2 linked regions of the Homo sapiens genome follow. The protein of the gene in region 1 purifies or fractionates together with the protein of each later gene. This does not show direct contact. Each region holds a gene or a part of one and is shown in the gene's direction. Other genes may lie near its edges. The genes, in order: SULT1E1 and AGL.

What was found.
Region 2: the proteins of SULT1E1 (region 1) and AGL fractionate together in Homo sapiens (co-fractionation; one large-scale study listed by BioGRID). This does not show direct contact.

Annotation. Positions count from the first base shown.
Region 1 is NC_000004.12:69,857,226-69,861,529, reverse strand, and holds the start of SULT1E1 (sulfotransferase 1E1), read left to right. Parts: upstream 1-1,384; 5' UTR 1,385-1,481; exon of another isoform or gene 1,482-3,876; 5' UTR 3,877-3,885; coding exon 3,886-4,030; intron 4,031-4,304. UniProt on the Homo sapiens protein: Sulfotransferase that utilizes 3'-phospho-5'-adenylyl sulfate (PAPS) as sulfonate donor to catalyze the sulfate conjugation of estradiol and estrone. Is a key enzyme in estrogen homeostasis, the sulfation of estrogens leads to their inactivation.
Region 2 is NC_000001.11:99,856,732-99,860,556, forward strand, and holds part of AGL (glycogen debranching enzyme), read left to right. Parts: intron 1-3,825. UniProt on the Homo sapiens protein: Multifunctional enzyme acting as 1,4-alpha-D-glucan:1,4-alpha-D-glucan 4-alpha-D-glycosyltransferase and amylo-1,6-glucosidase in glycogen degradation.

The DNA of each region.
Region 1 (4,304 bases):
GGCATATGAATGAGTAAATTTGTACATTTAATGATTGTTTTTCAACACATATTTTATTTAACTCAAATAATATGACAGACTGCATAAAACAAAGTAAAATGAAAATCTAAATTTGGGTCCCTGGTTACTCCTTTTCTACCTTAATTTTCTATTATGAAAAGCCCCATTTTTCAGAAACCACTTAACACCTCTTATTTTGCATAAGGCTAGATATTGCTTTCTATAACAACTATAGCCCCCTTAACTTCTTATATTTCTTGAATAAATCAGCCACTTTTATTCAGTAAATACATATTCAATGCCTAGCCTACTAGATGCCAGAAAAAAATGCTAATTACAGAGTAAGACCCTGTTTTCAAGCTATTTATAATTTAAAAAGTACTCTGGACAAGCAAACATTGATTTACAACACAGTAAAATAAATACTAGTTAGGAGAAAGTTCAAAGTTTAAAAGTCACTAAGAGAAACATAGAGTCTTGTAAGAGTGAGCCTCTCAAAGGAAATGTAATCTAACAGTAATTAATAGAGAAATAAGAAATAACAGGGTTGGAGGTGTTGATGGGGTGGAGCAAAGGATAATTTTCTTAAGTGACAGAGTAGGTGCAGAAAAATGAAAAGAAAGGTAATGCATTTGTGGATTCCACAAACCCTTGGCCATTTATTTTTCTAATTCTCTTGTGTAAATTCCAAGTGTTGGTAGCTATCATTACCTGAAAAATTCACAGTATGCTATTTTGTGGTTGGGAGCAGAGAGAAGTCAGGTTTCTAAAATAATAATCGAAAGGTGAGTGATGTTTACATTCTTTCTTTAGCTGTCATCTGCTTTTTAAAATTTTCAGGTCTGCTTAAGAGTTAAAGGCAAAGAGTTTAAATAGGTGTTTTCCAATTGACATGTTAAGATACAACCCAATGACTTCTTTGGCAGGTCTTAATAAACTGAGCTAGGTCTGATTGAGGGTCCTTGCTGTCTTATTTCTTTCCTCATTGGCTTCTCTTTCTTCACTCCAATAAGTTTATTCTTTTGAAAGTTAACCATAGTCATGCTATTATTTGTCAATGAGTGAATAAGGGATTCTCCCTTCCCAGTCTCTCTTCCCAGGCCTCTTCTTTCTCATCTTTTCCTTTTCTCCCTCCTTCTTCCCCAACCCCTGACGGCAGACTTGGGAATTTGAATATGAGCCAAATAATTAAAAAAATAACAGCAGGATATTTCTACATCTCCATGAATGAACATGACTCTGTGTGGTTACTGCAGCTGCAGGTATGCATTTACATCTACATTAACTATTGCATCATGGACTTCATGAAGCCAAGCCCCCAAATTAATCTCCACCTCCTTCTCTGGCATTCAGGATATAAACTCACCAGAAACATTCCAAATGCAGAAGTGGTTCTCATCTTTTTTTGCAGCTTAAGATCTGCCTTGGTATTTGAAGAGATATAAACTAGATCAATTTCTTTCACAGGATCAACTAAACAGGTTGTACTTTTTTATTATTAATATCAATACTTAGATTTTAGATATATAAAATATAGAATGAAAATTATGTATTACAAAGCTCTTAAAAATAAAATATACAAAGACCAAAGTCTTGATTGATACTTTAGTTAATTAATGATGTGAAGCATTTAAAACCTTTTAAAATAATTTGTTGTTAAAAATAATATTTTACATTTATGTAGTATTTTGTTGCTTATTGCTTTAATGTAAAATTACAGTACCATTGCTATCTTAAAAGTGCTGAATGCTGGACGTGTTCTCCATTTTACCAATGAGAAAATAAAGCAAGCAGGGTAGAAGGAGGTAGAATAGAGATTGACTTTTAGTTTTGTGTTCCTGTGATAAGGGGTCTTGCAAATAGGGGCATTACTTTCATGTAAGAAACTTCAGATAAATATGACAGAAATCCAAAGTCCTTGGTAAATAATTAATATGTAGGTCATTGACATATATTGCCTTTTAAATCTGTGAATCCTTACTTAGTAGAAACTAGAGAGCTTCTTGATCTAATAATTGAACTTAACAAATATTTCTGAACATCTACTTTGTGTCATAGTGCTGGAGATTGGGATAGAAACATGTACAAAAGTCACTTTGCCCTCATACAGGTAAATCTAAGAAAGTAGGGACTATGAGAACCCTATGTATCTATATCCACCATAGTATTCTAGCACTGACTACAGGGCCTAGGAAAAGGGTAGGCATTCACATAGGGAGTATTTGCTGGATAAAAGGCAGGTTGGAAGATGCAGGAGGGGAGTATGCAGAAAGAAAGGAAGAAAGAGAGGAAGGAGAGCGGGAAGGAAAAACACTTTCTGAGTTTAATTGAATTTATAAGTCACAATTTTAACAACTTTTTTGATGTTTATTTCTGAACAACTGACCTACATACTCAGAATAAAAAATTGACAATTTCTAACTGAAATAGATCTTTTGAGAAAATGGGGATCACATAGGAAGTAAATCCATACATTGTAATATGAGACAATTTACCAAAAGGAATAGAATGAGAAAAGATATTTTATTACATGCCACCTACTTTGCCTCTCAGACCAAAATTGACTATGAAGGAGTAGCTGGAAGTCAGCCAACCACTTAATGATAAATCTACCACTCCCAGCTGACTATAAGCCAATTCTTATAAACTTGGCTGAACACCAAGAAAGTAATTCACATGAGTAAGCAAACCAATAGGCAGGACAAATCGTGGTGCATTTTATACACATTTCTTCTAGTGAAAGATCTATTTTCTGAGACTAAGGAGAAGGCTTGGGGAACAAGTGATTTATTGATAAGGCTAATATGCATTTTGGAAATAGAAATCTCATATTTTTGGTGACATTACATCTGATATGATGTAGAGGAAGGTTTTTTAAAAGTTGAGATTGTCCTAAGGGCTGGGGCAATTTATGTGTGTAGAAGAACTTATCAGGCAGGTTTTTGGGCAAATGTGAACAGGAGGAAGATCTAGAAAGGCTAATGTCAGGAAAGACAAAATGTGTTGGGAAGCTATGTCAGAAACTTGAAATAAGCTAAGTTTGGCAGTTGAAAAAACAAGATACTAAAGGAATTTGAAAGCTAATGAAAGAAAGTATGCCTAATTAAAAATTCTGTTAGTAACCTTGAACATGAAATAGATTGTCATGGGATCAGGAGATGAATTAGGAAATGATAACCATCTTGCTTAACCTTATCATTTTTAGCCAAGTCATTCAATGGGAGTATCCACTACCTTATTGATCGAATGGGGAAAAAAGTAATTTTAAAGGTCACAGAGGAATCCTTTATACTCTCAAGATTCCATTTCTTTGATATAACCATTACAGTGTAATTAATTTCATCTTTTCTTTTAAATACATTCACCAAGCATTTGGTTTATTTAAAAAAATGATACATATTCAGGAAGTCAAAAATCTCTGACTTAGATACCCGGCAATAATAATCAAATGTAATGATCTTTATTGTTATTTGACATATACATAATTGGATAATTTGCTAAAATAACTGTAATTCTGGACCTCTTTGTCTTTTTATATGCCCCAGCAATTTTGAAAGAAATTGAAGGTTCTGTGGTTTTTATTTATCACGGAATAAATATAATTGAATATATCCACATTTTTATTTAGTTTTAAGCATTTTACTTCATAATCACTTGTGCTTTCCTATTCTTTTATGTGTTAGACATCTTTCTAATAAGGTTAAAAACTCTCTATGTACCAAAACTATTTGATATGCAACTTTACTATGTTTTTGCCCCATATGTGCAACAACTAAGAAGTGCTAGGTATGTAGGAGGGTCCCGTTATATACATAGTTGTTAATGGTGAAATATTGTTAAGTACATACAAAGTATAAAGCAGAGGTTTTTTTTCAGTGTACCACAATGAATTCTGAACTTGACTATTATGAAAAGTTTGAAGAAGTCCATGGGATTCTAATGTATAAAGATTTTGTCAAATATTGGGATAATGTGGAAGCGTTCCAGGCAAGACCAGATGATCTTGTCATTGCCACCTACCCTAAATCTGGTAAATCTCTTTGTTGTTCTTTTTTCACCTAAAAATAACAAACACACTGTAAATGGTAAATATTAAGGTGTTCATGTCGTACACACTCATTCTCTATATTAAGAACAGATGCGGTAGTTTTGATATGGACATAGAAAAGGTAGCTCTATTCCATGACCACAATTTTTACCTGTAACTTGAATAGTACATTGAGAAATGGATGTTGTTGAGCACAGTTAGAAACTTACATAATATATACTAATGAACCTGTATTCATCCCATAATGAAAATTTAA
Region 2 (3,825 bases), on another chromosome or scaffold:
CACATGTTTCAGAGAGCACAGGGTTGGGGGTAAGGTCATAGATCAACAGCATCCCAAGGCAGAATTTTTCTTAGTACAGAACAAAATAGAGTCTCCCATGTCTACTTCTTTCTACACAGACACAGCAACAATCTGATTTCTCTATCTTTTCCCCACCTCTCCCCCTTTTCTATTCCACAAAACCGCCGTCGTCATCATGGCCCGTTCTCAATGAGCTGTTGGGTACACCTCCCAGACGGGGTGGTGGCTAGGCAGAGGGGCTCCTCACTTCCCAGTAGGGGCGGCCAGGCAGAGGCGCCCCTCACCTCCCGGATGGGGCGGCTGGCCGGGCAGGGGGCTGACCCCCCCACCTCCCTCCCGGACGGGGCGGCTGGCCGGGCAGAGGGGCTCTTCACTTCCCAGTAGGGGCGGCCGGGCAGAGGCGCCCCTCACCTCCCGGACGGGGTCGCAGCCGGGCAGAGGCGCTCCTCACATCCCAGACGGGGCGGCGGGACAAAGGCGCTCCCCACATCTCAGACGATGGGCGGCCGGGCAGAGACGCTCCTCACTTCCTAGATGGGATGGCGGCCGGGAAGAGGTGCTCCTCACTTCCCAGACTGGGCAGCCGGGCAGAGGGGCTCCTCACATCCCAGACGAAGGGTGGCCGGGCAGAGACGCTTCTCACTTCCCAGACGGGGTGGCGGCCGGGCAGAGGCTGCAGTCTCGGCACTTTGGGAGGCCAAGGCAGGCGGCTGGGAGGTGGAGGTTGTAGTGAGCCGAGATCACGCCACTGCACTCCAGCCTGGGCAACATTGAGCACTGAGTGAATGAGACTCCGTCTGCAATCCCGGCACCTCAGGAGGCCGAGGCTGGTGGATCACTCGCGGTTAGGAGCTGGAGACCAGCCCGGCCAACACAGCGAAACCCCGTCTCCACCAAAAAAATACGAAAACCAGTCAGGCGTGGCGGCGCGCGCCTGCAATCGCAGGCACTCGGCAGGCTGAGGCAGGAGAATCAGGCAGGGAGGTTGCAGTGAGCCGAGATGGCGGCAGTACAGTCCAGCCTTGGCTCGGCATCAGAGGGAGACCGTGGGGAGGGGGAGGGGGGAGAGGGAGACCGTGGGGAGGGGGAGGGGGAGGGGGGAAGAGGGAGAGGGCTCTTTTCTTTTCTCTCTACCTGTTTTAGTTTTTTAAGTCTGTTATATGTTAGCAACATTGAATTACGTTAATATATGAATTATGCTCTCAGTTTGTATGTCAGATAAGTTACAAACAAAAAAGGCATACTCAGAAGAAAACGTAGAGGTTGTAGGTCTGGAAGGGGTTGACAATCACACCCTCATTTGTTTGCAGTATGTTGCCATGCATTGCACTTTTACTTAAGCTAGGTTAAGTAGCTTTACGGGTTATATTATCTTAAATAACAGTCTCTATATTACTTTGTAAGGAGAGGTAGAGTAACCAAGAATAGTTCTTTTACCTCACAGGAGTGATCGAACTTAAAAGATGAGTTAGAAAGTGTTTGAGATTCGTCCTTTTCAGAAATAACAAGTAGCATTAGATAGTATGATACTTAGAAAATATTTTCAGAAAAAATAAAAACTTAAGTCTTTGATGTAAACATGAGTGAGAAAGTTAAGTGCTTTTTTGAAGGAAATTGATGCTTGGAGCAGAGTTTGGCACATATTTTCCTGCAAAAGTTCAGATCGCAAATCTTTGCAGCTTTTCAGGCAATGCACTCCCTATTGGAGCGACTCAACTCCCATTGTAGCAGGAAAGCAGCCATAGGCAAACATACATGAATGGATGTGGCTGTGTTCCAGTAAAACTTCATTTACAGAAATGGGGATTAGGCTGGATATACTTTGCCAACCCTTGCTATAGTGAAAGCATTTTGAATATATATTTTTAGAAATGCTTCTTTCATCATTATATGATTTTACCCAAAATAAGTAGAACTTGAAATCTTTGAATCACTTTATTACAAAATATTAAAACCAAGACTTTTTAAAATAATGAAATTTATTTAGTTACATTTTCACTGAGAGATATTATCAATATTAATTTTTAGTGAGAGCCAAAAGGTTTTTTCTACCCACTAATAAATAAAATGTATTATTTAAATATTATTTATTTCATTTATATCTTATCCCATTAAGTTAACTTTTATATTTTATAATTTACATAATCTATGAGAACATCATACATATATATTATATAAATAAATGACTTAGCTTGGGAATTATTGGGGTTTTTTCCTGAAGGTAGAGCACTGATCCAAATACTGTTTTGGAGATTTTAGATGAGTTTTAACCTTTGCTCTGCAAGTTCTCTGAATACTTGTGTAATTATAAAAACAGTATTTGTATAAACTTAACAGGGGACAGGTTGTACACATATACCCAGACAGCTAATCTCTGCTGTTTGTACTTGTTCAAAATGACACTATTTCTCCTAAAGATAAATTTAGTCATTCTTGTGAGATGTAAATGTTTATGCTTCTCAGTCACTAAGTATTTTACTTCATGTTTTAATTCTTTCTGTAATTATTTCTTAGTCTATCCCTTCATAATTGTAGCTCTAATTTTAAAATGTTTTCCCTAATTATAAAATTATGCAAATGTATAAAAAGCATTTTTTCTGTGTTTTTTTTTTAATTAGGATTATACTATCTAAACAATTTTGTAACCTGCCTTTTTCCCGTTTGTAGTAGTATTATGGTGTATGTACTCTACCTCCCTGCCTACTGCCATGTTTCAGCCATACTTTTTTCCAGAAGATATTTTAAAAGCTCTACATAAATGTGTACAATGTAACAAAATAGAATAAATTAAAAGTGGTTATTACATTTTTTTTTTAATGGAGTCTTGCTCTGTCACCCATGCTGGAGTGCAGTGGTGCGATCCTAGCTCACTGCAACCTCTGCCTCCTGGGTTGAAGCAATTCTGCCCCAGCCTCCTGAGTAGTTGGGATTACAGGTGCACACCACCACACCCAGCTATTTTTGCGTTTAGTAGAGATGGGGTTTCACCATGTTGGTCAGGCTGGTCTCAAACTTCTGACCTCAGGTGATCCTCTCGCCTCGGCCTCCCAGAGTGTTGAGATTACAGGCGTGAGCTACTGTGCCTGGCCAAATGTCTTTTGATAACATGATTTATAATGGCTTTACAATATGCCAGCTTGTAGATTTACCATAATTTATTTAATCACTGCCAATCATTAGATATTTAGGTTGTTGTCAGTTTATTTCATTTCAATAAATGAGGCTGTGATAAATATCCTTATACATAATCTCTGTTTACATCACTGATACTTTTCTCAAAAAATCTATATAAAATTCCTAGATCAAAAAATATAAACATTCTTAATATATTAATGCCAAATTGTATTATAGAAAAAGTACATTTAGTTGCTTAGAGAAGAAATTCTTAGTTTCACTATAGAGCATTCTCTTAGTGTCTTTTACTGAAATCTTTTGTTCACAGAAAATATCCCTGTTAGTATATCCTCTTTTATTACTTTGTTGGATGTTTAATAAGTCAAGGATTATAAATTATAAATAATATATATTAAATAGGTAAATATTAGTTTTTTTCCTCTCAAAGAAATTCCTTAGATATTAAAGATTTTACTCAGTGGAACTAAACTTTCCTGCCTCATCAGTTATTATTGCCCATTATTAATTGAAAGTTATATTCGTGTTTAAAATTTATATGTATTATATTTCTAATAGACTTGACCATAGTCAGTATTTTTGTATTCTAATAATTATAAAGAAGGTTTAAAGTCTGCTTTAAACCAACCAAAATGTTTCTTTCACAGTACAGTTTTAACTGTAATGTGCTTA